Regions from separate parts of the Homo sapiens genome. Here region 2 is linked to region 1. Evidence: fine-mapped expression QTL. A gene starts in region 1. The other region holds a variant in brackets. All regions are shown on one strand. Distances are from middle to middle. Region 1 holds the start of MCM8 (minichromosome maintenance 8 homologous recombination repair factor). Region 2 overlaps MCM8 (minichromosome maintenance 8 homologous recombination repair factor).

Evidence for each region. PIP is the estimated chance that this variant, and not a neighbour inherited with it, causes the effect. A credible set is the group of variants that fine-mapping cannot tell apart.
Region 2: its variant is the best candidate, but not a certain one, in a credible set for the expression of MCM8 in thyroid (GTEx, PIP 0.88).

Annotation. Positions count from the first base shown.
Region 1 is chr20:5,944,049-5,960,821 of GRCh38, reverse strand. It overlaps MCM8 (minichromosome maintenance 8 homologous recombination repair factor), which reads right to left and starts at 10,170. Exons shown (of 19, transcript NM_032485.6): 1 at 9,799-10,170; 2 at 8,659-8,811; 3 at 8,294-8,398; 4 at 6,132-6,214; 5 at 5,571-5,720; 6 at 3,593-3,696; 7 at 2,096-2,294. The coding sequence starts at 8,806. TRMT6 (tRNA methyltransferase 6 non-catalytic subunit) reads left to right here and starts at 10,289. Exons shown (of 11, transcript NM_015939.5): 1 at 10,289-10,544; 2 at 14,289-14,416; 3 at 15,908-16,017; 4 at 16,569-16,660. The coding sequence starts at 10,417. RefSeq lists an enhancer at 10,154-10,293.
Region 2 is chr20:5,986,778-6,003,550 of GRCh38, reverse strand. MCM8 (minichromosome maintenance 8 homologous recombination repair factor) reads right to left here. Exons shown (of 19, transcript NM_032485.6): 17 at 16,193-16,269; 18 at 9,856-10,045; 19 at 4,574-9,252. The coding sequence ends at 9,160. MCM8-AS1 (MCM8 antisense RNA 1) reads left to right here. Exons shown (of 5, transcript NR_110101.1): 2 at 2,154-2,275; 3 at 2,876-3,030; 4 at 9,627-9,757; 5 at 12,083-12,756. It also overlaps the pseudogene RN7SL498P. Among named protein-coding and RNA genes, the nearest start is that of MCM8-AS1, 11 kb to the left of the region's middle. The variant G/A (reference allele first, on the strand shown) is at 6,306.

The DNA of each region.
Region 1 (16,773 bases):
CTTGGATTACAGGCATGTGCCACCACGTCTGGCTAATTTAGAATTTTTAGTAGAGATGGGGTCTCTCCCTGTTGGTCAGGCTGGTCTTCAACTCCTGACCTCAGGTGATCTGCCCGCCTCGGCCTCCCAAAGTGCTGAGATTACAGGCATGAGCCACCAAGCCCAGCCGAAGAACGGCTTCTTAAGCAGGGCATAAAATATACAAATTAGGGAGGAAAAGACAACAATTTGATCATGTCAAAATGTAAAACTGTACAACAAAAAAACCCACAAAGTTAAAAGACAAACCAAAGACTGGGAGAAAATATCTAATGTATATAATCAACAATAATTAGTATCTAGAATGTATAAAGAACTCCTATCAATAAACTAATAGAACCAGGCACAGTGGCTGGCACCTGTAGTCCCAACTACGTGGGAAGCTGAGATGGGAAGATCACCTGAGCCCAGGAGTTCAAGGTTGTAATGAGCTATGATCATGTCACTACACTCCAGCCTGGGCAACAGAATGAGACCCCATCTCTAAAAAACAAAATTAAAGAATAAACCAATAAACAGGAAAATGAACATTAGATATAAATAGAAAATTCGATAAAGAAACTGAATGGCCAGTAAAGATATGAAAAGATGCTCAACCACAACAGAAATCAGAAAAATTCACATTATAAATGCAGTATTATTTATACCTAACAAACTGTCAAAAATGTACAAGTCTAACAATACCAAGTGTTAATGAAAAGACAGAGAAATGGTAACTACTTAACACTACCAGCAAAGATTTAAGTTGGGAACAATACTCTGGAAAGTAATTTGGTAACATCTAATACAGTTAAAAATAAGTACAGCCGGCCAATCCCAGCACTCTGGGAGGCTGAGGCAGGCGGATCACCAGGTCAGGAGTTTGAGAACAGCCTGGCCAACATAGTGAAACCTTGTCTCTACCAAAAATACAAAAATTAGCCAGGCATGGTGGCGCGTGCCTGTAGTCCCAGCTACTCGAGAGGCTGAGGCAGGAGAACTGCTTGAACCCAGGAGGCGGAGGTTGCGGTGAGCCAAGATCGCGCCACTGCACTCCAGCCCGGGCAACAGAGCGAGACTCCGTCTCAAAAAAAAAAAAAAAAAAAAAAAAAAGTACAGCCTACAACTTAGTATTCCTCTGCTAAGGAGACATGTACAAGAATGTTCTCTGCAGTATCATTTGTTCTTATAAAAAACTGGAAAGAGCACAATTGTCTACCTCCAGGAAAATGGATAAATTGTGGCTATTTATTTAAAGCAACACTCCACAATAGTAAAAATGAAAGAATTTGATATGTATTAAAATAGGTAGAACTACAAAATAACCAAATAAAAAAACAGCTGCGTGTTACATTCAGGATACCATTTACGTAAACACAATACAAAAAACTAACTCTACACATGTAGTCAAGAATAAAAATGTAAACTTGAAGAATACATGCCAATTTCAGCATAGTGGTTGCATCTAGGGAGCAAATAAAGGGAATAAAACTGAGAACAGAAAGACTTCAACTTTATATAACCATATTTTTGTTACAAATTAAGCTAAAATAATATTAATATTTGCCAAATCATAGAGTAGATAAATGTTAATTACATTATTCTCTGCACTTTTCTATAGTTTTAAAATCCAGTTTAATAAAGGCTAATAAAGATTTAAAAAACCCATCACTTCTAAATAGTAGAAGAAATAAAGGGGAAAAAAAACTTGGTGTGTATACCTAGAAGTCAACAGAAATATGAATGGAAGGGATGCATATTATAATAACTTCAGGATAATGATCATCCCTGGGAATGGTATAGGTAAAAAACAGACACTAATTGTGCCAGTAATGCTTTATATCATTAAAAAATGTGTCCGGAGCTGAAAAATGTAAATTCGGGGTGATGAGTAGTGGAATGTTTTATTTATTTCTGTATTTTTCTTACCCTGAAGTATTTCATAATATAAAAGCAGAAAATTGAAAATAAAAAATAAAAATAAGCTCTGTGTTCAGAAACACTGGGAAATGTTTTCTGTATTCTGATTTGCCTTCTTTACCAAGATAAATAAAGAAGCAGTTAAAGAACGTATTACCTTTGTGGGAAGACTGTATTTTCCATCTGGAAGAGGAAAGCTCTGAATTTCTCCACATGCAGCACAAAGAAAAGCCATCTTGGTGCAAAGAGGCTTTATATTACTGACACGAACCACTGTCCCTCTTAGAGCAATGTATTTTCCATAGTAATTTGCTCTGACATTCTTGAGCTGTGTCAAAGGCTCATAGTTGTACACCCTAAAGACAAAACAGGAAGTAATGAACAGAAAATTGATGTTTTTTATATTTTCACAAGTTCCTTTTAGGAGCAACTATGGAATTCTCAAATCAAATCATCCCTTCGATATATCAGAAATATCACAAGAATTAAACCATTCTTGTTGTGTTTTGTTTTCTTGAGATGGAGTCTCGCTCTGTTGCCAGGCTGGAGTGCAGGGGTGCCATCTTGGCTCACTGCAACCACTGCCTCCCGGGTTCAAGTGATTCTCCTGCCTCAGTCTCCCGAGTAGCTGGGACTACAGGTGTGTGCCACCACACCCAGCTAATTTTTGTATTTTTAGTAGAGACAGGGTTTCACCATGTTGGCCAGGATGGTCTCGATCGCTTGACCTCGTGATCCGCCTGCCTCGGACTCCCAGTGCTGGGATTACAGGCATGAGCCACCGTGCCCAGCCAAACCATTCTTAACAAGAAACAACACTAAATCTTCCTTTTTCTTCTTGTCTCACAGGCTGTTCTCAAGGAAAAAAGAAAAAAGAAATTTAAGGAAAAAAATAATGCCAAAAGGAAAATCTACAGATTCAAAAACCTTTGGGTTTCTAAGTTCTTTTTAAAGAACTGCTAGGAAATTTTCTTCTATAAATTCTGGAAAAGAAAAACAAAATGCTGATGATTACCTTATAATGAATTCTTCTAATGAATTTAAAATCTTAAAGATGAATTCAAGAAAAACAAAATAATTTCATTATTCCCTTGTATCTAACAAAAACCTAATAATTTAACAAAGAACACTTAGTGTATTACAGACTGAGTATATCCCTTATCCAAAATGCCTGGGACCAGAAGTATTTTGGAATTTTTGGACTTCCAAATATTTGCAATATTACTAGTTGAGTATCTCTAATTCAAAAATCTGAAGTGCTCCAATGAACATTTCCTTTCAGTGTCGTGTCAGGGCTCAAAGTTTTGAATTTTGGAGCATTTCAGATTTCAGATTTTCAGATTAGGGATACTCAACCCATACATGGATTATTAAACTTACACAGCAGGGTCTTGATAAGTTCACATCCAAAACCAATGTTTACAAAAATCTGCAGGTTAGGAAATCAACATTTTCTTCCTTATTTAGGAAGTATCTGTCATGATGTCTTTGAATAATTTTCAATGAGTTTATTTCAGTGTGATGATCAATGAGATGGCAAGGAACTCATGTCCTTTTTACTGATTTCCTCATTTTTATAAAATGAGCGTTTTCATTCTTAAATGGCCTTCAATGTCCCATTCTAAGTAATACTTTAATACATCAAATTCCTCACCTTGCATGAATATGTGGCACATTTACCATTGTTTCTCCATCATTAGACAATCCTTCCTGGGCTTGTAACTCAGCTGCATGCCTTTCAAGGTCCTTAGTTAACACCTAAACAGGACAGACATTTACTCTGAAGTTGGAAAACAAAACATCCTCTTTATACAGAACTCTATTTTTATAGAGAATATAAAGTTTATGGACAGAAACAGAATAAAAACAGAAAACTTTAACAGCCCTTTAAATATCTAATATTTAATTATGACTACTTACTTTATAGTGGATGTTTTACATTGGATTTTGCTGTCCCTGTGCTGAAAAACTCCAGCATCCCAGTCTGCTACTTTCTGTCCCAACTAAACCTAACATTAAAAGCCCTTACATTAGTCCCCAAAACCATCACCTCTTGATACTAATTAAAAAAAAAAAAATGCATTCCTATTTCTCTATATTCACTGACCAATCAAGACACAGAAAATAAAAATGACCTTTAAAATACCTAATACTCACTCCCTTGGCATTTAACATTAAATAATATAAACACGCTGGGCGCAGTGGCTCACACCTGTTATCCCAGCACTTTGGGAGGCCAAAGTGGGTGGATCCCCTGAGGTCAGGAGTTTGAGACCAGCCCGACCAACATGGTGAAACCCCATCTCTACTAAAAATACAAAAATTAGCCAAGTGTGGCAGTGCATGCCTATAATCCCAGCTACTTGGGAGGCTGAGGCTGCAATGAGGCAAGATCACACCATTGCACTCCAGCCTGGGCAACAAGAGCAAAACTCCATTTCAAAATAAATAAATAAATAAACAACAAACAAACATTTAATACCACTTGTACACAGCAGTTTGCTGGCAACCTAAGAGGCAAAATAAGATGCATATATACAGCTGTAATTGTCATAAGGACCATAAAGATGTACAGACAAAATACCATGCAAGTTTCGAAAAGTGGTCATGAGAAAGGTTTTACAGACAGACAACTGAGCTAGGCCCAAATAATCTGTCCATGTGAAGGGAAGGGGATTCTATGTTGAATGGACAGCACAGGCAAGAGGTAGAAGAATGCCCCTCTGAATGCCCCAGCACTTTGTGTATGCCTGTCCTGAGATTTGCTATTCATTACCTTGAAGCATGTATCTGTTTGCTAGCCTAAAAAATGTTTTTGGCCGGGCAAGGTGGCTCATGCCTGTAATCCTAGCACTTTAGGAAGCCAAGGCAGGCGGATCACAAGATCAAGAGATCAAGACCATCCTGGCCAACATCGTGAAACCCCGTCTCTACTAAAACTCCAAAACTTAGCTGGGCATGGTGGTGCACCCAGCCACTCGGGAGGCTGAGGCAAGAGAATCACTTGAACCCGGGAGGCAGAGGTTGCAGTGAGCGGAGATCATGACACTGCACTCCAGCCTGGCAACAAAGTGAAACTCCATCTCAAAAAAATAAATAAAAAATAAATTTAAAAAATTTAAAAAGTTAAAAATGTTTTCATATATGTTGTATTACCTGACCCTGAAAAAAAACTCAGGCAAGCACAGTACAAACTGTTATTTACATTTGATATACAGGGACACTCAGTGGTTTGCTTCATGCCACAGAACCTAAATCTAAGGTTGCTCTTTTTTGCTCTAAGTTCATAACCGATAACACCATGATTCCTTGTTTTATCTTCCCTATGAGATTGTATAACTTCTTGAAAGCAAAGTTTAATTTCTGCACAATCTTTAGCAAGATTAAGCAAATCCAAATAAGTTGGAGGTAAATATTTCATTTAGATAAGCTGTTGTATATAGAATGAATGGTATCTTTCAGAACGGAACTGCAACCTCTCAGTTCTAGCCAACATCTTTTCGTAAAAGCTAAGTATCTCTTATAGAAAGTACAGTCACTGTAAAATCTTCCTTTAAACTTAGACAAGGTGTGCATGTGTGTGCAAACATTAAAAAAGTTTAGACAAAAGTATGCATAAGACAAATAGTTACCTGATGTATTGCCAAACCCATGCAAGCCAAGGTTTTCTCAGGTGCATCTCTTAGTTCAGTTGCTATATCTGGTATCAAGTTAGTTACTTCACCACCTTCTGTCAGTTCTTTAAAATCTACCAAAATACTTCCCTTTCTTTCTATTTCATCCTATAAAATATAAAAGTATGAAAACAATAATTGCTTTTCTGTAGTCAATTACCATTAACTGAGCATTCTATTATAGACTTTGAGAAAGCATACAATGTTTATATGTGATAATGGTAAGTATGACATAAGTATAAGCTTTGTGCCAAGCATGGTTCTGATATTTTAAATATATTAATGTATTACTGCCTCTTAACAATCCTTTGAGGTAGGTATTTATACCTCTATCTCCAAATGAAAGAAAACTGAGGCACAGAGAAGTAATTAATCAAAGTCCATACTGCAGGTAAGTGGCAGAACTGAGGTCTGAACCAAGGAAGTCTGACTCCAGTGCCTACGATCATAATCACAAGTACCTCGAATACATTGGTAAGATGGCACATGACTGGTAGCTTTGCTGTAGAGGAATCTTACCTTGTCATACAAATCAATATGCCTTGTGAAAAATTTTTCAAATGCTTGAATCTTCTCAATCAAAGGAGAGCTATCGCTGTAAACTAATCCAACAAATATGGCATTAGCACAAATAATCACACAGGTACATGCACATTTTTCATGAGACAAAAGCAGCACTATATACATGGTAGATGATTTTTTTCTAATTGCTTTGTATTTTGATTACATTCATATAAGAACTAGTATAGAATGTAAACTTAAGATTCTAAAACAAATTTAGGTTTGCATAATGTGAAATGCAGACAGAAACTCTCTCTCTCTAAAAGCCCCACTATCTGGGAAACTTTGTTTTGCATCTTTGACACCTAATAGGACATGTTAGTTCAGATAATTTAGACAATAAGCTTAAACTAAAAATTATAATAAAGCCAAAGCCAGACACATAAACTAAGCTCTTACTCTGACAGAGCTGAAGACAATCACAATCACAGTCTTTCCTGAGATCAGGAGACAGACCAACACTTGACCCTGGTGGCAAAACTGAAAAGCCTTTTTTTTTTTAACACTCTAAAGTTCTACATTTTCAAATATGTCTCTCACAGAAGAACAGTACAATAAAGTAGTTTGGAAGCACAGATGGTGAAGGCTAAGGCACCTCTTGAACTCCATCTTTAGGACTGTCCAAAGATCACTTATAGTGTTCTGAGCTATCTGCTAGGGGAGCAATGGGAGTGCTGGTGGCTAATACATCCTAAAGGAACAAAAGATCATTCATGAAACAGATTCTATTGATGGAAAAAAACGAACAGATTTCCAATAAAGAAAACATTTGTAAAGTACTCTATTCATTCACAAAATGACTACTGCATGCCTGGTATGGGGCAGGGAGGGTCCTGGACCTCAAACGTCTAGTTTTCCTAAAAAAAAAAAGTATGCGGCTGGGTGCGGTGGCTCACGTCTGGAATCCTAGCACTTTGGGAGGCCGAGGCGGGCGGATAACGAGGTCAGGAGATCAAGACCATCCTAGCTAACACGGTGAAACCCCGTCTCTACTAAAAACAGAAAAAATTAGCCGGGCGTGGTGGCGGGTGCCTGTAGTCCCAGCTACTCGGGAGGCTGAGGCAGGAGAATGGCGTGAACCTGGGAGGCAGAGCTTGCAGTGAGCCAAGATCGCGCCACTGCACTTCAGCCTGGGCAACAGAGCAAGACTCCATCTCAAAAAAAAATAAAAAGTATGCACACACACACACACACACACACACACACACACCCCTCATGAGACATAAGAAACAAATGGGTATTTTAACAGCACAAAAAAGACAGTTCCCTGCACCTATACAGACTGATGTAGGTTAATTGGTATTCCTAATTATCAAAGGGAGATTCCTTACCTGTGTTTCTACACAAAGCTGTATTTGTTATTGTCCCTTGATTTCAGGCCCACTGTTCTACTTCCTGCTCTGCGATGCTATAATTCAGATCTGTACCCTACATGTCTCAGATTCTCTTTAAATTCTGCCAATTGAAGGCACTTTAGAGACGGGAAGGTGGCAGGAAGAGAAAGGAATTTATTCTTGTTTCCAACTCTTTTCAGCATCTCTGCAGCTGCAGAAGATAACGATAGTGCTAGCCTCCAGTTCCAAGCACCACTGAGTCATGCCCCCTCAGTTACCAGTGGCAACCAGCTTCATTTGCCTTAGTGGTCTAAGCACAGCTCTGTAAGGTAGCCTTCAGAAGTCCAAGCATAGCTTTGTAGGGTGCCCCTCAAAAGTCAAAATAACAGCTATGCTGTGACCTCTCCAACCTTTGAATTCCCACATTCTGGTAACCTCAGAACTTCTTTTAGTCTCTTAGCCATAAGGATGGTTGCTGCTTCCTGAATTACTACTTTCTGGGGAGTTACCTCAATATTTCCTTTCTGCTCTTTCAGTCTTCCATTTTTGTATCCAATTTCTTGTATTAAGTCCCCTTTTTGAAATACCTAGTATGGTTTCTGCTTTCCTGACTGATATAAAGTCTAAAATGCTTTTGAAACATAAACATCATTTAATTGTTTGGGTGAACTAAGATTAAAGCAGGTATATGTTAGTAAATGAATTACAGTAATACAAGATGTAGCATCCAAAGACAAGTTAAGAAAATATGATTTATGGTGCTTTTTTGTACTTTTTAAACCCTACCTTCAGAGAAATAAAGCTTCCAGCCTTTATATGGTATGAATCGATCCAATGTTGACTGCATTGACTGTGGGGTCTTTGTTGAAAGCAAAAACTGTGGGGTTTGTTCTGAAAAAAATAAAATACTAGGTTAGTAGAAACAGAGTGAACATTTTTCCAATATGCTTCTCTTTCCAAATGAGACTCTCATTAATAGAGTATCCAAATTAGGGGTTTTAGTAAAAATCTGGGACATCAATGTTCAAATACTTACTAAGGAGTAGCATGAAATAAAAGACAAACTGAAGTATGAGATAAACCGCCTTGTATGATAGACGTGAATTGCTTCCTTAAGTGAAAAAAATTGAACAATCATTGACCTCACCTACCAGAAGTACGTTTTCCTGTGGTTTTACTCAGATCAGGTCTGTGTTCTCTTTCTCTCCATTTTCCTGAGAAGTTCCCACCACCTCTTCCCCTTTTCCAGCTTTGAAATCTTCCTCGTCCAAATCCTCTGCCTCTATACTCTCCATTCATCTCTCCTAAAAGATAGATATTAAAAAGGTCTTCACCAAAACTGTAAGGAAAATAGTGCTCTTAAAAATGTATTAATAAAAAGGGAAAAATTAATGTATTCTAGGTTCAAGAGTAGCAAACAGGCTTGCAAAGTTGTACAGCTATGATACAAGACCCAAATATTCTGCAGTTAAGTTTCTAATCTCTATCGCTTTTTAAGGTATACCATAATAGTTTAATAACTATTAAATATGGTTTACGTATACTAGACGCTCACAGGTTAAAAATAAGGACAGGTACTGTACCTGTTTACAAGTCCCCATTACAGAAATGAAAATAGGACAGGTAATTAACTCTATGAAAACTTATTTGCAGTATTTGAGACTTCTTATTATAGGGCAGGACAGGATGAACATAATTCTGGCCTGTGAGACACTAGGGATACATCATCATAGCTTCTTACATACAGTCAATCCTGCAGTGTCACATCCATTTTTTGTGCAGTTTTTCTGTAAATCCAAAACTGTTCTTATAAAATACACGTCTACTTAAAAATGATTCATATCCTAAGTATACAAGTAAATAAAGATATACCTGTACGCTGCAGTGCAATTCATTATCAAATACTCTACCCAAATCCTTACTTAAAAGGGGTTTAGTTAATAAAACAAGATAGTAACTAGAAAGTTCACGATTTAACGGCATGACAGGGCTCCAATAATTAGGCATTACACATTATGAAACTGATGCTCAAAGAAATTAAGCAAACCGATCAAGATCAAAGTTGTTTGTCGACAGTACAGAGATAAAACTTTCAGCCTCCCAAGCTGAGGCGCTCCTTCAACAACGCTGCGTGCCATACCCTTCTCAAACGAGACAATATGCTGAGAACAGTAACAAATTCAAAAAAACGTTAAGAAGTAGGACTGGAGAAAGAGTAAAAAGAAACAGTTGGGTACCTGTGCTTCTTCAAATACTACTTTATTTACATCTCCTAAGGCTAAAGTTCTTACTTGCTTGGGACAGAGGTCCCAAAGCTCTCCTAGTTCACAACTGGGCCGGCTCCAGGATACGCGCAGATCTGTCCGGCCGGATTCTCCCTCCCTCCCTCCCGTAGAGAAGCACCACGGGGCTAAGAGTCTCCGGGATCTTAGCTCCTCAGGCGACTCCTGCCAAGTCCGCAGTTCTCTTCAGCCGCAGCTTTCCTGTCGTCCCCGCGCGGTGCTGAACCCCATCTGTCTCAACGGCTCGGGAAACTCAGTTTCCCCACCGCAGCTTCCAGAAGGTGTCTGTAGCGCACAGCGCCGCAAAAATGCCTCAAGCGAAAATCAGGTCTTCCCCTAAATTCTTTTTTGGCGCTTCAGTGATCCAACTTCCGCTCAAAGAAGCGGCAAGACGAGAGGGGCGGGGCGGAGTGCAGCCAATCAAGGAGTTTGGCCAGACGGAAGCCGAGAGGCTTCCGGAAGCGGTCTTGAGGTCTGGGCCGGAAAGCGGAAGCGGCGTGCAACACGTGGGGGCGGTGCCGGTCGGAGGGCTCCTAGTGCGCCAGGTTGTGGGAAGTGAGGCTGGCGGTGGCGACAACCGAGGAGGAGGGGCGGGACGCCGTGGAGCACGGCGACCGGCTGAGCGTCATGGAGGGCTCAGGGGAGCAGCCGGGCCCACAACCACAGCATCCCGGAGACCACCGCATCCGCGACGGCGACTTCGTGGTGCTGAAACGTGAAGATGTGTTTAAAGCAGTACAAGTCCAGCGGAGAAAGTAAGTCAGATCGCTGATTTTAGGGGTCTCCCGCCCCCACCTTGTAGATACCCCCTCCCTCCAGGTTTCTCCACAGAATTCTTCCGCCAGGGTGCCATTCTTGGCTCTCTCGGTCCCCATTCCCCGCCCTCGTTGTCTCCTCGGGTCTTTCTGTCACAGAAGGCTTTTCCACCAGGATCCCGTCTTCGAACCTCATAATCTCCCTTAACCCTCCTGTTTTTCCCGGAGCCCCCTCCATGATTTCATATCTGGCCGTCCACCTTCAGCATCCTTTTCAGTCTTTCCACAGAGTTCCTTCCCCAGAATTCCATTCTTGGCCCTAGGGTGCCAATGCCTCCCTCTCCACACCCTAATCACCTGTCCTGAAGTTCTTTCCCTAGGACCTTGGGATCTTCACTGTCTTTCCAGAGACACCCCCTCCTTTCTTCACTTTAGGATCTCATCCTTGTCTCCAGAGTCTCCTTCAGGTTCCCCCTTTTTTTCCACCATAGATCCTCCTTCTTCCCTAATCCCCCAGTCAGGATCTATCCCACAAAAAATGAAACGTCTCCTACCTAGTCTGGCTTTCTATCCTCTTCTCTACCCAAGCAGGATACACAGAATAGATGAAGGAGACAATTCACCACAGAGTGTGGAATCACTTTGAGTTTCCCTCGTTTTACTCACCAAAGGATTCAACGCTGGGAAAATTGCTAAAAAGCAATTTGCTCAAGGCCTCAGAACTCCAAATTAGGTTTGGTTTGTGCACCTGCTGGCTAGTATCGCTCTGTTTTATAGAAGTAAAGAAGTGGGATTTTGATAACTTTCTGGAAGGGCTGGTGAGGTTGTTAAGTCCTAAGAGCTTATTAATGGTGAAAATTTATTGGGATATTTGGATTAATTTATCTGAGAAATACAACCACAGTGTTTTTGTTTTTGAGACGGAGTCTTGCTTTGTCACCCAGGCTTTAGGGCAGTAGTGCAATCTCGGCTCATTGCAGCCTCTGCCTCCGAGGTTCAAGCGATTCTCCTGCCTCAGCCTCCCTAGTGGCTGGGACTCTGGCACCATCACACTCGGCTAATCTTTTTTTTTTTTTTTTGTATTTTTAGTAGAGACGGGGTTTCACCATGTTGGCCAGGCTGATCTCGAACTCCTGACCTCAGGTGATCCACCCGCCTCGGCCTCCCAAAGTGCTGGGATTACAGGTGTGAGCCACCGCACCTGGCCACAGTTTCTTTTGAGCTAGGTTATTGTATTACTTTTGACAGAGATAAGTTGAATGCAATGTCAGGAGAACAGCTTTCTGCAGACTGGGAAGTATGAGATTTGGAATTTCTGATAAGTACTTACTTCAGATGAATTCTTTTACTCCTGGTTTAAGCAAACTGTTGACTGGTATTTAAGGTGAAGCAAGCATCATAAAATAGTCAAGAAACAAGTCTCCAGAGCACTAAGCTGGTGATAACCAAGCTTTTTGCACAAGCACTAATTTAGTAAAGATAAAAAGTTTCTTTTATGAGGGGTATGTTTCTTTTAGTCCGGAAATGTAATACCTGCACCAACCTTTAACCATTTTTAAATTCTTCTTTTTTTTCTTTTTTAAACTAATTAATTTTTTTTGCAGAGACAGAGTTTCACTATGTTGTCTAGGCTAGTCTCCAATTCCTGGGCTCAAGTAATTCCGGCCACCTCAGCCTCCCAAAGTGCTGGGATTACAGGCATGAACAGTAGTTGACCTTCCCCTTTTGTGGTGCCAAAAGGGTTGGAGACCACTGCCCTAAACATTTATTTGGAAATACTTTTCAACAGGCCCTCTTCTTCGCAGAAGTCATAGTGGCAGTTTCCATTTTATTTAGGAAATGACTCTCTCAGCTCAGCTGCATCCCAGGTCAGACTCCCTCATCACCCTTGGGGCTACACTCATCTGATTGGGCAAAAAACAGTCCAGGCTCTCTGAGAAGTAGACTCTGCAAATCCTACTCCTTCCCAGTAAAGATGTGGCCTCCTTATCCCTCTAACGGGGCCCCACATTCCCGACTGGGGCAGTGACCTGTCAAACCAGCCAGTTTTAAGTGACACGCATCATCCCCTCTGCATATCACATAGGCTCTCAGAGAGGTAAACCCACCCATCTCAGATCCAGTGTTTTTGTTTGGTTTGTCTGTTTGTTTGTTTTGTGAGACGGGATCTCACTCGGTCCCCCAGGCTAGAGTGTAGTGGCGTGAACTTGGCTCACTGCAACCACTGCCTCTTGGGCTCAAGCAATCTTCCACCTCAGCCTCCTCAGTAACTAATTTGTGTACTTTTTGTAGAGAAACTCCTGAATTCAAGTGACCCTCCTGCTTCAGCCTCCCAAGTAGCTGGGACTACAGGTGTGTGCCACTACACCTGGCTAATTTTTTTATTTTTTGTAGAGACGGAGTTTTTCCCCGTCAGCCAGGCTGGTCTCAAACTCCTGGACTCAAGTGACCCACCTGGCCTCCCACAGTTCTGGGATTACAAGTGTGACCCACCACACCTGGCCAGATCCAGTGTTTCAAAGCACCTAGGTGATTAAAGGATGAGGATAGGGGGTGCACATCTGGGCTGAGCTGAATTGCAACATCTGAGGAGGTTTACATTAGCAAATATTTTGAGTGTCTGTTACATTCTGTTGTATGTAAGTATCTAGGGACCCAGCAAATAACAAGAATTGGCCATATCTGAATCACTTACGATCATACAGGATTTCCCTCAGATGGTTTGAGTAAGCTTTAATGAAGATGTGACTCAAAAGTGTGGCCGATTTAGGGAACCAATAAAGGTGACACACCCAGAGACCAGCAATGGTGGTAAGCCTCTGACACGGGAGCGTGGGTGATGTGGCAGTATATTCTGTCGTAATCAGCTTCCTGGTGGCACAGAGAAAGGAAGAGAAGGAGTGGGATGGGGCACAATCAGAATTAACCACCACATGATTCCCAGAATTCAGTGTTCTGTGCACATGGGCCATGTCCTGAAGCTAGGTGGGCTTTCTACCGTCCTTAGGTCTTTGCTGGAGTAGACCGTGTGGTATAGTGGAAAGAATGAGGCTTGGGGTCAGACACAGATTTGAATTTGAATCCCAGCTCCAACAACACCTTGCAACTGTGAATCTTGGACAAGATACTTCTCCCTGGGCCTCGGATTGCTCTTCTGGAAAGAGCTATGTCCCAGGATTACCGTGAGAATTAAATCAAAAAGTGTGAATCACACCTCGCACACACTGCCTAGCCCCTGGTTGGCACTCAGCAGATGTTAGTTTTCTTTTGAGAAGAAAGCATTGTGTTCCTGTGGGATTTCTCTTTTAAATTGCAATAAGATAAAAAATCTATGTCATAGGAAACCTCAAGTTGCCTGGTCCTCAGTAGAGCATTGTCAGTGTTAGGCTCCATTTCCAAGTGTGTAGATTGTCAGTGTTTATTTGCAAGTATAATTTGCTTTTATTAGATAATTTTCAAATAAAATGGCCGATCAGACCAAGCCCAAGAAATTTGTTAAATCCTTGTTACTTCGATGAGTCTTTGCTTCCCCTTTCCAAAATTCAGTGTTCTTGTGGCTTATTCATTAATTTTACGTCTCTATCCCAACCAGGTTCTCTCTAGTTCCTTTGTTGCTTTATGTTCAGAGATAATGCTGCTGATCATCCATTGTGGAGACCACTTTTGAAATAAACTGTAGTGAACATGTCTTTTCTGTACTGGATAGAAAAGATATTCAGTTAATTGATTACTTTTTTTCCCTAGAAAAGTAACTTTCGAAAAACAGTGGTTCTACCTGGATAACGTCATTGGCCATAGTTATGGAACTGCATTTGAAGTGACCAGTGGAGGAAGTCTACAGCCCAAGAAGAAGAGGGAAGAGCCTACTGCAGGTGCACATTTTGGATGCGTGAAATAGATGCTCTCCAACTGACTAGTCAGAAACATCTCAGCCTCCACCTAATTCCCAAGTGCTAGGCCATGCTATCCCAAAAGAAATCTTAACTCATAATCTAAGAACTGCAGCTCAGTGGAGTGAAGCAAGTACTGCCTTTGGCCATGAGATAACCTGGATTCTGGCTCCAGCCCACCATTAAATGGTTCTCTGTTCTTGGGCCAGGCATTTAATCCTATGAGTCGTTGCTGCGTCATTGCAAGAACATAATGTAAAGTTCTTTCAGTGCCCAGAAGTTATGTAACAGCTGTGAGGTGGTTAGCATATGGTGTAGAGGTTAAGAGGTCTGGTTTTGGATCCAGCTAAGTTCAATTTCTACCTTCATCACTTGCCTTGTACCGTTGGGCAACTTATTTGATTTCTGTGAGTCTTATATCCTTATATATGTAAAATAGGGTCATAAACACATTTAATGCCTAGGTTGTATTGAGTGTTCTATGATATGACTCATAGGAAGTTCTGAATAGTGTCTTGCTTTTAGTAAGGGCCCATAATTTTAGCTATTACTATTATTATTTCTTAACAACCTCTTGTCCAAAAGCTGTTATTGTTAATTAAAATTATATTTATTAAAATGAACATTGAGAGTATCTTATTAATTAAAACACAAGTAATTATTTGAAGTTAAATACTGTTAAAGTTTTGAGTCAAACCTGTTATTTAGATACATTTAAATTAATATCCATATTTTTACTAAGCACCAAATATATGCCAGGTATAATTTGGCGCTGCAATTATAGCAGTTCATAAGATAGACTGTCGTATAAAATGTGCTTACCAGTTGGAACACCAAAAATAATCAAGTAGACAAGCAAACAGCATGATTTCTGATGGTGAAGTGACACATGCTATGAAGATAATAAAGCAGGGGCGTGTACTAATTTGGTAAAGCAAGAGAATGAGCTCAGCCTCAAGTGATAGAAAGGATCCAGCCACTCAGACATCTGTCGTAGAACCTTCCAGGCAGAGGAAGCAGCAGGTGCCAAAAGCCTGCTGTGGGACCTTGCTGGGTGTGTTCAAGGAACAGAAAGAAGGCCATTGTGGCTGAAGCTAAAGTGTCAAGAGATCAGGCCAGGAATGATAGGCAGGGGCCAGATCATTTATGACCTTGCAGGTCATCTTTGGAGTGTATTCTTATTGCTATGGGAAGCCACTGTATGGTTTTAAGCATGGGGTAGATGAGTCAAATTGCATTTAAACAAAGAGCACTCTGGCATCCAGGTGGATAGTAGGGGGGCAAGACTGGGAGCAGGAAGATGACTTAGAGGCTTGGAGTAGTTTTGGCAGGAAAGGATAGTGTGATGGGGGCAGTGCAGCTGGGAGGCCAGACTTGAGTGGCTGATGGACTGGATGTGGATATGAACTCAGAAAAAGAAAGTGTCAAATAATTTCAGACCATAAATGTCAATAGAGCAATTTCTTTCCTTAGAGACTAAAGAAGCGGGCACTGATAATCGAAATATAGTTGATGATGGGAAATCTCAGAAACTTACTCAAGATGACATAAAAGCTTTGAAGGACAAGGGCATTAAAGGAGAGGTAATATTCAAAGGATTTTTAGTTTTGTTTTTGTCTGTTTGGCATTTAGGAAACTGTTGGGTTTTTAAAGCAGACTGTACCTAAGGTAAAACAAAAAAATAACGTTATAGCTTTGATAGAAATAGGTTGAAATGTACATGTTACTCAACATTTCAAAGATTTTATGTCTTATATACAGGAATATAAGTGAATGACATTACTAATGTCAGTGGTAGAGAATGTAATAACAGTGCATATCAGGATTTAACTTTGTTCATTTTCAGTAATGTTTTCAGCCAGTGTCTTCAGAAATTAGTTTCCTTTACCTCTCTTCTCCTTTTGTTGGATATCTCTGTTCTTTTACGTTGGTTTAAGTGGAGTTATAAAGTACTTGTATTTTATTATAAATTCCAAATAGAGTATAGAAATATAAAGTTCATCTATTTGGACTTCTGTGGAAAAGGGATTGGAGAATCAGACCATTGGATCCATTCTTGGGTAAGAAGCCTTTGGAAATTACTTGTTTTGTGAAAGTAAAGTTTCAGAAAATCTACTTGCTCCTTTTCTTATAGGAAATAGTTCAGCAGTTAATTGAAAATAGTACAACATTCCGAGACAAGACAGAATTTGCCCAAGATAAATATATTAAAAAGAAGAAAAAAAAGTAAGTAGTTTTTATTTTAAAAGGCCCACAATATTAAACTTCTTATATGTTTATAAAATATACATTTTATTACAAATAAAATATTTTAAGTCATTTTTTTAAATCAGCGTTCT
Region 2 (16,773 bases), 43 kb before region 1:
CTGAGTTGTGAACATAAAAATTTGGCCCCTAGAGGGTAGTATTGTCTTGCCACTTTTAATGTTTTCCTTGGTTAAGTTGCAAAGTGCTGTGTATGACTGTGCTGTATATTGGAACAAATTACCTCTTTGCTACAACTTCTTGGAACCTGTTTTTAGGCTTTCTGTTTTTGTTTTTTTGTTTTGTTTTGTTTTGTTTTGAGATGAATCCTCGCCCTGTTCTTGCCCAGGCTAGAGTGCAATGGCGCTATCTCGGCTCATTGCAACTTCCGCCTCCCAGGTTCAAGCGATTCTCCTGCCTCAGCCTCCCAAGCAGCTGGGATTACAAGCGCATGCCACCACGCCCTGCTAACTCCTATGTTTTTAGTAGAGACAGGATTTCACCATGTTGGTCAGGCTGGTCTGGAACTCCCAACCTCAAGTAATCTGCCCACCTCGGCCTCCCAAAGTGCTGGGATTACAGGTGTGAGCCACCATGCCCAGGCTGTTTTTAGGCTTTTGAAAATTCTGCAACCCAATCATTCTTTCTCACTTATCACTTCTATTTGAAGTTTAAGCTTTTTGAGAAGAAAATCTTATTCCAAATCTATTATGAATATTTTCTGCCTGGGGATAAATGAACAAAGTCTAGAAATATGTGTACTGCGTTCTTATATCAGATATGCAGTGTAATGTAGTGTTACTTGTGTTATTTAGTCTAGGACACAATAAACTTGGGCTACTTTTTGTTTCCTAAAACCAGAAGAAGATAATGTAAAGAAGGCAGTTTTGCAAATGAGTCTTATGTAAATATTGATTGGAAGTTAAATCAAATTAAAACAGCTGGATATGGTGGCTGATACCTGTAATCCCAGCACTTTGGGAGGCCGAGGTGGGTGGACTGCTTGAACTCAGGAGTTCGAAACCAGCCTGGGCACTGTGAGGACCACCCCCCCACCCCCCTGCCCCGCACACCGTACCCCCCGGCTCCCCCCGCCCGCCATCTCTACCAAAAATACAAAAATAAACCTGGGCATGATGGTGGGTGCCTGTGGTACCAGCTACTCAGGAGGCTGAAGTGGGAAGATCGCTTGAGCCCAGGGAGGCAGAAGTTGCAGTGAGCCGAGATTGTGCCCCTGCACTCCATCCAGCCTGGGTGACCCACCGAGGCCTTGTCTCAAAAAAAATTCTCTAGGAATCAATGACAGTTAAATCTTACAGGAGTAAGCTGTAATTACCAGGCACTAAACCCAAAGATGTGTTTTGAATAACCAGTAATCCAAATAAGGCACAGGTTTCAATCATTGTAATAAACGCACCGTCCCACAGCCTAAATAGGAAAAAACTAAATGATGGGATTTAAGATTTGAAACACATGTAAGCAAAAGAGTGCATTGCTGGTAGGGCCAAGCACCTTGGGCATAGCTCCTCAGGACTTGCAGAGATTAACTCCACCTAAACTCTATAATTTAGATTACTGTTTAAATTATCAAGAGATCTAAACTAATTCTCCTTTTCATTTTTGTTATTTTATTTTTTATGTAAGAGACAGGGTCTTACTATGTTGCCCAGGCTAGAATGCCGTGGCTTTTCACGGGGCGATCCCACTACTGACCAGGACGGGAATTTTGACCTGCTCCATTTCTGGCCTGGGCAGGTTCATCCCTCCTTAGGAAACCTGGTGGTCCACCACTCCCAGATCAACATGTTGATGCCGAACTTAGTGTGGACACCCAGTCAGCATAGCACACTATAATAGCCCAGAATTCCTGGCTTCAAGCAATCCTCCTGCCTCAGCCTCCTGTGTAGCTGGGACTACAGGCATGTGCCACTGCACCTGGCTAAACTAATTCTTATGTCAACTTCTAGTGCCAACCTTTCCACATTTCTTCCTGAAAATGTACTGATGTCACTAGAATATGTGAACAATTAAGTCATTACTAAGTTTTTATATGGTTGTTTTGGAACCTTTAAAAGAAATAACATTCTCGTAAGGCAGGCATTATCTACAAATAAGAAAGTAAAAAGGGTTGGTTTTAATATTTCTTTCCTCTCTGCTCATATTTTAAAGGTGATAAAGGGATTGTTAACATCATTTAGTGTACAACTAGCTTTATTTTCCATTCCATTCCTCCTTCCTGTAAAGATTTAAGAATCTTGTTTTCCTTTTGTTACAGGGGTCCCCAACCCCTGGGCTGTGGACCAGTACCAATCCATGGCCTGTTAGGAACCAGGCCACACAGCAGGAGGCGAGCGGCAGGCAAGCGAGCATCACCACCTGAGCTCTGCTTCCTGCCAGGTCAGCAGCGCATTCGATTCTCATGGGAGGGTGAACCCTACTGTGAACTGCACATGCGAAGAATCTAAGTTGTGCGTTCCTTATGAGAATCTAACTAATGATGACTTGAGGTGGAAGTTTCATCCCGAAACATTCCCCCATCCAGGTCCGTGGAAAACTGTCTTCCTTGAAACCAGTCCCTGTTGCCAAAAAGGTTGGGGATTGCTGGTTCAGAAAGCTTTAACGTTACATCCAACTATCCTTTCTATTCAGATCATGTGACAGAGTTTCCAAAAATGGTAAACCACCTGTTTCCCTCTGGTCCTGCAGAAAAAAAATTAAACCAGTACTGTGGTCTCTTTAAACAGTTTATTTCTGAGAAGAACCTTCAAATGCGAGCACAAGATAATTTTTCCCCCCCAAATCCTAGGCATTTTAGTTCATTTAAAATGGGTTTATGTAATACCTGCAAATGGAACACAAACATACCATTTTTTTCTTTCTTCTCTCAGCCACATGAAGAATTTAGTTTTTGAACATGGTAAAATATTCTTCAGCTATTAATTTCCTGTACATACCTCATAGTCCCTGTTTATATTTTGGGTATTTTTTTTTTTTTAGAGACATTGCACTCCACATAGACTCGCTCTGTACCTAGTCTGGAATGCAGTGGTGTGATCACGGCTCAGTGCAGCCTCAAACTCCTGGGCTCAAGCAATCCTACTGCCTCAGCCTCCTGAGTAGCTGGAACCACAGGCATATGCCACCATGCCCAGGTAATTTTTTTTTTTTTTAAGAGATAGGGTCTCCCTATATATTCCCTGGGCTGGTTGGTCTCCAACTCCTGACCTTCAACAGTTCTCTTGCCTTGGCCTCCCAAAGTGCTGAGATTACAGATGTGAGCCACCATGCCCAGCTCTGTTTACATTTTTAAAAACCATGTCGCCACACAAGCGAGCATTTTTTATTCAGTTAAATCAGATTGTTTAAAAACCTTAACTGTGAGGCTGGGCACAGTGGCTCACACCTGTAATCCTAGCACTTTGGGAGGCCGAGGTGGGCGGATCACCTGAGGTCAGGAGTTCGAGACCAGCCTGATCAATATGGTGAAACCTCGTCTCTACTAAAAATACAAAAATTAGCCGGGCATGATGGCACGCACCTGTAATCTCAGTTACTCAGGCTGAGACAGGAGAATTGCTTGAACCCCGGCGGCGGAAGTTGCAGTGAGTCGAGATCTCACCATTGCACTCCAGCATGGATGACAGAGCGAAACTCCATCTCAAAAATAAAAAAACAAAAACCTTAACTGTGGCATACATACTGAGATGTAAAAAAAGATTCTAGAGCCACCCACAGTCCTTGGCTGAAGGCCTCCTTCCCTCATCTGCAAAGCCAGCAATGCTGCATCCGTGCCTTCTTCTGTAGTCACATCTTCCTCTGGCTCTCTTCTGCCTCCCTCTTCCACTTTAAAGGTTCTTTCTAATTATATTGGACCCATGCAGATAATCCAAGATGATCTCCCTATTTTAAGGTCACCTGATTAGCCATCTTAATTTCCCCTTGCTATGTAACCTAACACATTCACAGGTTCTGGGCATTAGGATGTGATGTCTTGCAGGGTGGGTACTATTCTGCCTAGCAAACACGTGAATGCAGTGTTCCGAGGTGTTTCTCAGGACTTACAAGAGTCACTTTAATACTAAAGATAATATACATTCTCTAAGGAAGAGGAGTTTGCAGACTATCCAGTGTTTTCAATATATCTAGATGTTTCAACCTGAGGAAGCTGATTACTATATATATATATATGGAGAGAAAGAGAATATATATACACTCCATAGAGTATATATACACTATATATATATACTGTACTCTCTAGAGTATATAGACTATATATAGTGTATATATAGAGTATATATACTCTATACATATCTGTATAGTATATATATACACTCTATAGTGTATATATATACTGTAGAGTATATAGTATATATAATATATAGTATATATAATATATATACTTTATAGAGTGTATACTCTAGAGTGTGTATACTCTAGTGTATATATATATACACACTAGTATATATACTGTATATGGAGTGTATATATATACTCTATATAGTGTGTGTGTGTGTGTATATATATACACATATATACTCTCTCTATATATATGACATGTTGAAATTACTATACATTTCTAGAAGCAAAGACTAAGAGTCTGTAGTCCCAAGGAATTATTCAGTGACTTTGCAAGTCTATGTACTAAGAATAATTCTGATTTAAATGTCAGAATCTGGCTCAGTTTTTGTTTTAACCTTTTTTTTAAAATTTTTAATCAGTGTTATGTATACACATGGTAAGTAACTCCATGGTATAGAAAAACTGATGATGGAATTCAATAGGTGCACTCTGCCTTTCCATTCCCAAGCCCACGCTCTAGAGCAAGCCTGGTATAGCTTTTGTTTTCAGTTCTTCTGAGGGTTAAATAAAACGAGTAGGTAGTTTTGTGAATTAATATTGCCTTATAATTTTAAGTATAGTACATGACCCAGGTGGAGTGCTTTAGATACAGATGTATGAGTGATTAGTTGCAGGAAACACAAACTACTGTAGCTAGCCACATTTAAAAGGACTGTAAAACAGGGAACTGGATGCTTGCAATATTGTCACAAGGGCTAGGAGTGGGTTCCATACTGGGTCTCCAGAATTAACTCCCAGAAAAACACTGCAGGTCTGTCTGGCTTGCCAGAGGCGCTGCTACCCCACAATAATGAGAAAGGTGAAGAATCAGGGTTGCATCCACCACGCCACTTGCCTCAACAACTGACTGCAAGAATTCTGCTGCAGGGAAATTAAATGTCTCCTCAACCACACATGCCACCAGAACACAAGCAAGAGGAAGATGGCTCTCTCCTCAGTTCTGCATTCCAAATCTCACACATGGGTGTCTGATCAGTGGAACCCAATTCACATCTGGAAATCTACCTGCAAAGGGAGTCTGGGAAATGTGGTTATTTTCTCACCTTCCAGCCCCTGCATTATAGGAAGGCACACTAGGAGAGCAGAATGGACACTGAATACCAAATCACCGTATCATTGTATCTACATTTATCCACCTCTTTGGCTAGTCAATATCCATACCATTGTTTATGAATTCAATGCATTCATAAACAATATATGAATATTGTTTAATATTCTTCTGTATAACAACAGCAACTATAACATGCTAATGTAAGTACGATATTTCCCTTCTTTATCAAAGGAGAGCTATAAAGATCCATCAATCACAGGGTGGTGTTTATTCCTCTTCTCGTTCAGTTATACCCTCACCTTGATATCTCTATCCTAAAAATGAAATGATCAAGTTGATTACCACCAATACAATTTACTTAACACAATATTGGAAAAGAGAGGAGGCTGGGCATGGTGGCTCACACCTGTAGTCTCAGCTACTCAGGAAGCCCTGGAGTTTGAGACCAGCTTGGGCAACAAAGGAAGACCTCATCTCTACTAAAAATCAAAATTAGCTGGGCATGGTGTTGCATTCCTGTAGTTCCAGCTACTCAGGAGGCTGAGGTAGGAGGATTGCTTGAGCCCAGGAGATCACGGCTTGATCATGTCACTGCACTCCAGCCTGGGCGACAGAACAAGACCCCCATCTCTTAAAATTTCATCTCGCAGCCAGGTGTAGTGGTGCATGCCTGTAGTCTCAGCTATTCAGGAGGCTGAGGTGGGAGGACTGCTTGAGCTGAGTAGTTCAAGTCCATACTGGACAACATGGCAAGACCACCATCTCTTGAAAAAGAAACTTTTGGCTGGGCACAATGGCTCACGCCTGTAATCCCGGCACTTTTTGGGAGACCGAGGCAGGCAATCACCTGAGTTCGGGAGTTAAAAACCAGCCTCACCAACATGGAGAAACCCCGTCTCTACTAAAAATACAAAATTAGCCATGGTGGCACATGCCTATAATCCCAGCTACTTGGGAGGCTGAGGCAGGAGAAACGCTTGAACCCAGGAGGCGGAGGTTGCGGTGAACCAAGATCGC[G/A]CCACTGTACTCCAGCCTGAGCAAAAAGAGCAAAACTCTGTCTCAAAAAAAAAAAAAAAAGAAAAAAGAAAAAAAAAGAAACTTTCATGATGTAATGTTTTCTTGCTTTGCATGTTTCTGTTCTGACATTTGTACTTAGGATTTGTTTTAATCAGCAATGGTGACACAGAAACAATTGCCTATGGAAGATTACTTTCATCTCCCAAGAGGGCGTGCCATGCCACACCAGGCCACATGAGGAAACACCAAAGTCAGTCAGGCAGTAAAGAAGCAAGTGAAAAGCCTAGGCCAGAGCTTTGTTGCTACAGTGGTTGAAAGGTGTGGGGACACCCACTATTGGGCAGGAAGTGAAATACTATATGTTGGGGTTTGTGGTTGGAGGGACTGTAATGTGATGTTTGCACACCCATAAAAGCTGGATTGTAAGGGAAAGCTAAACAACTTTTGTTGTTAGTTTGGCCCTGTGATTAATGGATGCTAAATACATAATCTAAGGAAACATGGAACTTCTTCTTCTGAAAATGTAGGTTTATGTCTTTTTAAAAATAAATTTATATAATAGCCTTAACCTTTGAGACTTATTTTCCTCTTTGAACAATAAATTAGTATATTTTCTCTTCTGTCTACCACTTTATTTTGGTTGATATTATTTATGTGTTGACTTTTGTGAAATGTTTTAAATTCTATTAATAGATTTTTTTTCAGCTTTAAATATCTCTTATTTAGTTTGGAGAAAGAGTCTCACTCTGTTGCCCAGGCTGGAGTGCAGTGGTACGATCTTGGCTCACTGCAACCTCTGCCTCCCGGGTTCAAGTGATTCTCCTGCCTCAGCCTCCTTAGTGGCTGGGACTACAGGCACACACCACCATGCCTGAGTTATTTGCTTTAAATATCTTTTAACTCCTAGCTTTTAAAGACTTCACTATATTTATACTACTATCTACTTTCTCCATTTTTTTTTTTTTTCTTTAAGAGACAAGGTCTTGCTCTCTTGCCCAGGCTGGAGTGCAGTGGTATAATCATAGCTCACTGTAACCTCAAACTCTCGGGCTCAAGTGATTTCCTACTTCAGCCTCCACAGTAGGTAGGACAATAGGCATGCACCACCGTGCCCAGCTAATCTATTTTTTGTAGAGATAGGGTCTCAATGTGTTGCATAGGCTGGTCTCAAAACTGGCTTCAAGTGATCCTCCTGCCTCGAACTCCCAAAGCTCTGGGATTATAGATGTGAGCCACTGCACCTGGCCCCTTTTGATTCCTGATTTTTCCTTCCTCACTTAAAAATTTACATTGTGGTCTATGGCAATAGTCTCCACATCTTAGTTCTGGTCCTATAGTTAAACATCTGATATACACTGCCAGTTCTTTTTATTTACATTTTCCATTCATCTTCGTTTGCGGGAAGCCGTATTTTAGTAGATTCTCCAACAATGGTTCACATTTCCTGAGTTCTTGTATGTTACAAAGTGTTTGTTGGATTTATACATGATTGATAGTTTGGCTGGCAACCCTGTAACATTTGAATCCTCTCACAACATATGAGAAATTCTGGTCTTATTGATCCCACCACCTGAAAGTAGAACCAGGAAAACTCCCTAGCAGCCTATGAAAGGGGCATATAACATACCCTTTTTCAATCAGATGTCTTTGTATGCAACTTCTTTTTTGAATTCAGCAATTTAGGGAGGCATCTCATGCAGAATCCTTTTGTTGCTGTTCCGGTGCGGGTGGGGGCATTCTTCTACCTATTCCTGCTGCAGAAGTGGCAAAGGTGGGGCAGGGAGGCAGCAGCACTTTCTTCCAGTGCCCTGTGTGGCAGTGGAGTGTCAGCAGCTTCTTCCTTAGTCCAATTCTAAGGCATGGTTTTACAAATTGCTGCTGGAAGCTTACCCTCCTGGTTCACCTGCCTTCTAATAATTCCGTGAGCCAAACAAAATTCTTTCAAAAAACTTCTCCTGCTTAATCAGTCTGTTTCTATTGTTTCAAGCAAGACTACAAACTACAGCCTGTGGAATAAATGAGACCTATTATTAAATAGCTAAAAACAAAACTCAAGTATTTTGTATTCTTGACATGGGAAAATTTTATGAAATTCAAATTTTAGTGTCCATAAATAAAGTTTTATTGGAACACAGAATATGTAATATATTCATTGGTTTATGTATTTGTCTGTATGCCTACATCTGATATGCAAAACTATGAAATATTCATACATATAAAAGGCAGGTCAAAAATACAACTATAAAAAATTTATAAGTAATTTACTTTTAGCCCTTTGGAGAATTTATTTAACAATTAACACATGGCTACCACTACAATTTTTTTTATTTTTTTGAGTCAAGAGTTACTTTATTGCCCAGGCTGGAGTGCAGTGATTGGTGTGATTGTGGCTCACTGTAACCTCAAACTCCTGGGCTCAAAGAATCCTCCTGCCTCAGCCTCACAAGTAGCTGAGACTATAGGCATGTGCCACCATACCCAGCTAAGTTTAAATTTTTTTTTTTTTTTTTTAAGAAATGGGGTCTTGCTATGTTGCCCAAGGTTGGTCTCGAACCCTGGCCTCAAGGAATCCTCTCACCTCAGCCTCCTGAGTCACTGTGATTACAGTGTGAGCTACTGCATCTGGAGACTTTATCACTTCTTAAATTAGTTTATTATATTTAATGCTTTTTTCCTATTATAATACTTTTGGGACATCATTTTTCAGAGAACAGTATTTGACTGTGTGTGTGTGTGTGTGTGTGTGTGTGTGTGTGTGTGTGTGTGTCTGTCTGTCTGTGCGTGCACGCATATCTTCACTGAGATGGCTTTAATCTGCAATAAACCCAGGAGGCCCTAACTTGGTGAAGTCCTTTTACATAGTTTGAAGCTGGTAAACTTTTGGGCCTTTTTTCAAGAGGTAACCCTGGTCATTTAGTGATCCAATAAAATTTTCAAAATCAGCAACCTGGAAGAAAACATCAAAAGGTTTAGCCCATTAAGTAACATGTCAAAATATTACTTTTAAAATAAATCTCTCAAATAATAATATGTACCTGTAAAGTTTCTTGGCCAAATAAAATTATTTTTATTTCTTACAGAGCAAACTGCCTATATTTGAGTTCTGGATTCTATAATGCCTAAATAAATAAAAAGTAAAAATTCCAATATGCAGAGAATATTTTACATTTGTTTTAGGTTAGCTGAAAAAAATCAAGCTAACTTTTGAAATTAAGAAGTTAATTTTCCATAATGTGTAACAGCCCATGTTTGAAGTGCTATTACATTGATTTTCACGAGAACTTTGAAGTAGGAATTGGTATAATCATGTCCATTTAACAGATGAGGGATGCAACGTTAAAAGATGTTAAAATGACATATCCACAAGAGACAGTCAGAAAAACATAGAGACTGTCTTACTACAATGTTTCCCTCTGACTATCAAGATGCTGAAAACCTTTGAGAAGAAGCAGGTATGAATTTTAAATAAGTAAAAACTGTTTCTGTTCTACTATATATTAACAAGGACCTCCTGAAATTATTACAAAAGAGATTAACTAGTTTAACATACCTGAATGTTTAGTTCTTTGGCAATCTGCCGAAGTTGATGAAATTGAAATATATTATTATAAGTTCTTTCAGCAACGTTGTTGAGAGCAGAAATAAATCTTTTCGCTGTTGACCTGTTGCTCATTCCAGAACCATGCTGGGATCGCTCAAAATCTAGGTTCCCAAATTCATCAGAGTAAGTTCCTAGCATGCTTAAAAAGAAAGGAAGAAAAAATTACCCAATGTAGCACTGCCATAGAAATTGTTGTCCTGGGCTTTCAGGTTACAGAAGAAAAATTTGGAAGTAGCCACAAGGCTCACTTAGCAAACATTTCAACATGTGTTTATTGAGGGGCCACTCTGAAATTCACTATGATGGATTGATAAGGAATAAAAATATTTTGGACACAGTTACTGCTTTTAAGAAACTTCTAAATTTGGAGAGAGAAATGCATAAAAACACAAAATTGATAAACTACAATATAAATACCTGGGACATTCTTTTTGATTCATGAAGAAAAGAAATTCTAAATATAATAAATTTAGACTTCACTAAATAAAAATGTGTCCCATCTCCTGGAGCAGCATCTGGCCGCACCAGTATTTTAAATAAAAGGTATTTAAAATACTCTAGGAATGAACTAGAAAGGTTATGGTGAGTTGCAGTGATACTGGTTAGATATTAAAGGATGCACCTATTACTGCCAGATTTCTTCTGCTTTCTCTAATTTTCACAATATCACCAAGGAAAGAAGTACGTACTTGATAGTGAATTTTAGCTAAAGTCTGAAAACACTAGTTAGAAACATAATTAACCATCCTGTTTAATCCAACTCTATTGCTGATTCCCTGCCTCAACAATGGGATAGCTATATTTCACAGCCAGACTAATTGGCAAAACTGTTATTTAATCAGGAATTAATTAATTAGTCAAATACATACTGGTCACCTGCTGGGCAACAGGCTTATAGTGGTGAACAAAACAGGTATAATCCCTTCCCTTAATGAGCTGCAGGAATGATTTTAATGGGTTATAAACAATAAAGCTTCCTTTTGTTCCTTGAATAGTTAAAAGCCTACGTTATGCAAATAGGAATGAGTCATTCAAATAAAACTATTAAAAATGATAAAACAGTAAGATGGTAAGTGTTTTCCTCTGAAATACAGCATAATCTCTTTTAAGATGAACCTCCCATATGCTTGTTTCTCATGAGAAAGTTGTTAAAAATGCTTTCAGTTAATAATAATAGGTAACATTTATCTTAATTATATTTGTTTAACATAGGCTATCCCACTTAATCCTCCCAGCAATCCTGTGATTTAGGAACTATTCTTATTCCCATTTTACGGATGAAAAAACATTCTTATTAGGTTGGTGCAAGAGTAATAGAGGTTTTTGAAATTGCTTTTCTTATGGCAAAAACTGCAACTACTTTTGCACCAACCTATGCTAAGATTAAAGTGACTTGCCAGAAGTTACACAACTAGTAAGTGGCATATCTCAGATTTGAATCTGCTACACTGCTTCAGATTTTAAAAAGCTATGTAAAATATTTGAGCTAGTTTCCTGAAATAGAAAAAAACAATGATCTTTCACCTTTGAAGGTGGCTCTGTTCTCTTCTGCTACCTAGTATGTTTTCAATTTTAGGAGAAAGCTTATGTGAACTGTCTACTAAATATAAGCATTTAGTTTTTTAAAATACAGCTAAGTGCTCTGGTAACTCAGACAAGCTATGTCACAGTTTAAGAATTTTCTTATTCAACTGTCAGCTTCCCAGTTAAAATGTAATCTTAAAAGGTTTAAAACCACATTAAGGGCAAAGACTGAACGAAGCTGAAGAGATGAAAACTCTGAAATGGAAGATTTAATGAATGAATGAATCATTACTAAGGTCAACTTTACTATCAGTGCAGGACATTTACTGAAGGCCTACTTTATGACAGGCATGATTCTGGGCCCTGGGAATATACTGGTAAATGAGTCAGATAAGGTCCCTGCTCTCATAAACTAAGGAAAGAATGCATGTTGAGCATAACAAACAGATAATTCATAATCTAATTTCATTGTGTTTCACTGGATCTTGATCTCTACCATGAACATAGTGTCAGGTAATTCCAATCAAACTATTTTCTTTTTCCTGAAAATTTTTATGAATGCCAGTAAACATACTGAGACAATTCAGGGAAACAATCTGGTAATGTCATGTGGGTACTGTTTACACTTAATAATAAGACCTCTTTTTTTCAGGGGCCCAGATGTAAACTGATCTGAAACTTGTTCAAATTTACCACCAAAGCAACTCTGGGAAGCAGTACAAATACAGAGTTCCATGAGACAACACTTAAGAGTTCCTCTTGGACAGGAAAGCACATGCAAACACTGTCCAACATGAGTATTCAGACATGCAGAGAAATCTTATACCAAGTATAACCAACCATAAATGGGCAATATAGCATTTTTACTGAAAAGGTAAATATAGCCTAATTTACTCTGCTTAAGCATGATGCTCAGATAGGAGAACTAATCTACCGTGTCCACAGACCAGTGAATTTACTGTGGGGAAACAGTAAACAGTTGAGGTGACGTCTATGGTCTAAGGCCTGCAGAAATTGAGCAATGGTAAAGCCTCAAGAGGAGAATGTTACAGGTTAAGAGAGAAAAGGAGCAGGGTAGTGTACCCCTTAGTTTGCTCGACAGATGAACAGTCTACAAAGTAGAAACATGACATTCAGGAGAGCCAGGCACCAGAAGACCCAGAGGGCCAGAGATCATTAAAAGGAAAAAGAAATCAGGAGTGGGAATCTCAGCCACACTCCCAAAGGTGGAGTGTTCAAGTGCAGGATGCAGAGAAAGCAAGATGCACACATTCTAGACTGTAAGTCAACAAGCAACTTCTCATCATTAAATAAGAAGTGCCTATTTTTGGTCTTTGTTTTTTTTATAGGAAAAAAAGTTAAAATTAAAAAAAATTCTGAAATTTTGGTTGGGTTGTGACTTACTTTCCTAATGGGAAAAAATATCTCTGCTAGGTCAGTCTCTAGTCTGGTCTCTTAGAAAGCCATACCCACAAGAAGTCAGGCAGACAACTAGATTTTGTGGCCATTCTTTTACTTCATATGCTAGCACACCATGCCCCTAGCAGCAAGTTGTATGAGAAAGTCTAGTAAATTCCTAGACTATCTGGTTGCTTATAAATGGCAACTAGAGGGTCTCCAACATAATGAGATCAACTGGAGAGGGACTAAAGCCAGGTTGGTAAAATTTTCAGCTACAAGATCCCTCAAACCCTAGTACTGAATCACATAAAGAGAGAAAATTGATGGGTCAAGGACTGTGTGATGTCAGGCGCGGTGGCTCCCACCTGTAATCCCAGCACTTTGGGAGGCCAACGTGGGCAGATCACCTGAGGTCAGGAGTTCAAGACTAGCCTGGCCAACTTGGCAAAACCCCGTCTCTACCAAAAATACAAAAAAATTAGCTGGGCGTGGTGGCAGGTGCCTGTAATCCCAGCTATTCAGGAGGCTGAGGCAGGAGAATCGCTTGAACCCAGGAGGCAGAGGTTGCAGTGAACTGAGATCACGCCACTGTACTCTCCAGCCTGGATGACAGAGTGAGACTCTGTCTAAATAAAAGAGAAAAAAAAAAAAGCACTGTGTGATGCCATACCAATAGGATACTTAGACACAGAAGGTAAGTTGTTAGAAATTAGCTCAAAGGGTTGGGAGTCAATAATTATTAATTTTTCTTATTATGAGGCAGTTACTTTGGTGCCACCAATAAAAAATTAAGAGCTGTCAATTCTAGAATCTTTAAAGCTTTCAAAGACAGCCAGTAGAACCTCACGGTTGCTTACAAACTCTGAGACTGAATTAAGGAGAAAGGTTCCTCTTCTTCCATGGACTCCCTCTAAGGGCAGGAAACAACCTGCAGATTCTTGTACCTTCAGGAGGTGACATGGGTGCCCTTCTACCCATCTGCATACCTCTAGAGGCAGCAGAGAGAAGACAGCAGCCTCCAGGGATGGGGCAGTACCAGGCTGGGGACAAAGAGACAACTAGGTAAAGTCTCTCCCTATGAGGAAAAGACAAGAAGAAAAGGATCTGCAGCTAAGACATACTGCACAATTTAGATGGAGAGCACTGAGGACTAGACCATAAAAATTCTTTGAAAAGGGTGATTTTGGAAACTTCTTATCTAGGGTGAGATCTGCCAGTTTTTGAGGCCTTTGGTTTATGGTATAACTCAGAGAAAAGGGGATCTGCTCAGCCTCATCTGAGTATCAACAAAACTTACACTATCAGGCCAGGCGTGGTGGCTCATGCCTGTAATCCCAGCACTTTGGGAGGACAAGGCAGGCAGATCACTTAAGGCCAGCACTTTGAGACCATCCTGGCCAACATGGTGAAACCCCATCTCTACTAAAAATACAAAAATTAGCAGGTGTGGTGGCATGCACCTGTAGTCCCAGCTACATGGGAGGCTCAGGCAGGAGAATTGCTTGAACCCAGGGGGCGCAGGCTGCAGTGAGCCAATATCACACCACTGCACTCCAGCCCGGGCGACAGAGCCAGACTGTCTCAAAAAAAAAAAAAAAAGACTTGCGCTATTGATAGTAAACAGTGTTTACTGAGTGTTCTCTAATGTATCAGAACCGTATTCGTCACTTTATTGAGCATCACTGCATGACACCTCAGAGCACAATCCTTTGTGGTGTGTTTTACACCAGAGGAAACTGAGAAGCAGTGTGTAACCTGCCATGGCAGCTCCAGGTTGAACTCCAAAGCCCTTGCTCTTCCAGCTATGCTGCACTTTTATTCACAGCCAAAGGGGAATAGCTGGGCAAAACCACCTGGGCAAAACCACCTGGTTCTGACACCACGCAAACCTCAGAATCAGCAGCTACTAGGACAAAAGAATTCATCTACCTTAGAAGAATTAGAAATTACTTAACAAAATTAGATAATTTCATCTTCAATATATTTTTTGGTCTTGGAAAAGTAGACTCCTAACAGATAATGTATTTTCATTGCTATCAGAGGATATTAAAAATGCATTTTAAATGAAAAAAGCAAGGTATAGCATGTATATGGTATGTTGTTATAGTTACCATTTGTCTACAAAGGGGAAAAAAGAATATATAGATATGTAGTCACACAAAAAACTGCTAATAATTGCCACTGGCTAGCAGGAAGAACGGGGTAACTATTAAGCTGAGTAGGAGGAAACTTTTTCCACTATATACTTTTTTTTTTTTGAGACAGAGTCTTGCTCTGTCACCCAGGCTAGAGTACAGTGGCACAATCTCAGCTCACTGCAACCTCCACCTCCCAGGTTCAAGCAAATCTCCCGCCTCAGCCTCCCAAGTAACTGAGATTACAGGCACTAGCCACCACGCCCAGCTAATTTTTTGTATTTTTAGTAGAGACGGGGTTTCACCATGTTGCCCAGACTGGTCTCGAACTCCTGACCTCAGGTGATCCACTTGCCTCGGCCTCCCAAAGTGCTGGGATTACAGGTGTGAGCCACCATACCTGGCCTATACTTTTTGAACTTTGGAATTTTGAAGCTTATGAAAGTATGGACCTATTAAAAAAATTTTTTTATCTGGAATAAAAAAAACTACCCAAAATAATATTACTGATTTTTAAAAATCTATGTCTAAGGTAAACATATATGCTCAACTAATTTTTCTTTTCTACCTTCTAGGAATCATTATCTACTAAATGATGTAAAATGCAAAGGATACAATTTAGCAATATTTATCAAAAACCTATAGTATTTACTGTTGAACCCAGAAATATCGCTTCTGAGAATTTATCACGTAGGTGCACAACTTACCCACATATGAAGTATCTTACGTAGAACATTACTCATTGTAGCATTATTTAAAAGCACAAGAATGGAAAATATTTATGTGTCAATAGGGGACTGATCAAATATACTATATAGTATATCTACACAATAGAATACTCTAGCTATAAAAAAAGAGTCTCTAATAAAAAAAGATCTCTGGATATATTGTTAAAATTCAAAACCAGTACAGAAGAGTATAAACAGCAGACTGTGGAAAAGCAATGGGTGTCTGGGTGAAGGGCGAGTAGGTGGTAAATAGCTCTTCTCCAATAGGTTTTGGAACTGATTTTAGCACTATGTAAATGTATTACTCATTCAAAAAAATTTCTAATGTAAAGATTATTTACACAGTGAGAAATATTTTAAACTAAGAAACGGTACTCTGTTTAGGAGGAAAATAAGTGACCCAATGGGCTAAATAAAAGTAGCCTTGGCCTATTACCTAATTTGAGATGGGAAGATAACTGGTATTTCATTTAAAACAATTTGAAATTTTTATCTTACCTATATTTCATAATTTCCACTATATCCTCAGCGTCTTCTTTGGTTGCTTCCTCTCTCAATTCCAACCTTGCTCGTGCCTTTAAAAGAAAACACCATTTTCAGATGACGAAAGATGAATATATTTACCATAGTATGTCTAAGCTTTACTTCATTTACTTGTTTTACACAAAAACTGACCTTTAGGCGAGGAAGGTTATAACATCAAAAGTCAAAATATGGAAGTAATTCTCTGGGCTGGGGGTGGTGGCTCACGCCTATAAACCCAGCACTTTGGGAGGCTGAGGTGGGAGGATCACTTGAGCCCAGGAGTTCGAGACCAGCCTGAGCAACAAAGTGAGGACCTGTCTCTACAAAAAAATTTTCAAATTAGCTGGGTGCGGTGGTGTATGCCTGTAGTCCCAGCTACTTGGGAAGCTGAGGTGGGAGGATCCCTTGAGCCTGGGAGGAGAGGCTGCAATGAGGCTTGATCATGCCACTGAACTCCAGCCTAGGTGACAGAGGGAGACCCTGACTCAGGGCAAACAAACAAAAAAAATCTGTGAAACCTTGACTATGAAAATTACAACTCACTTAAAATAAGG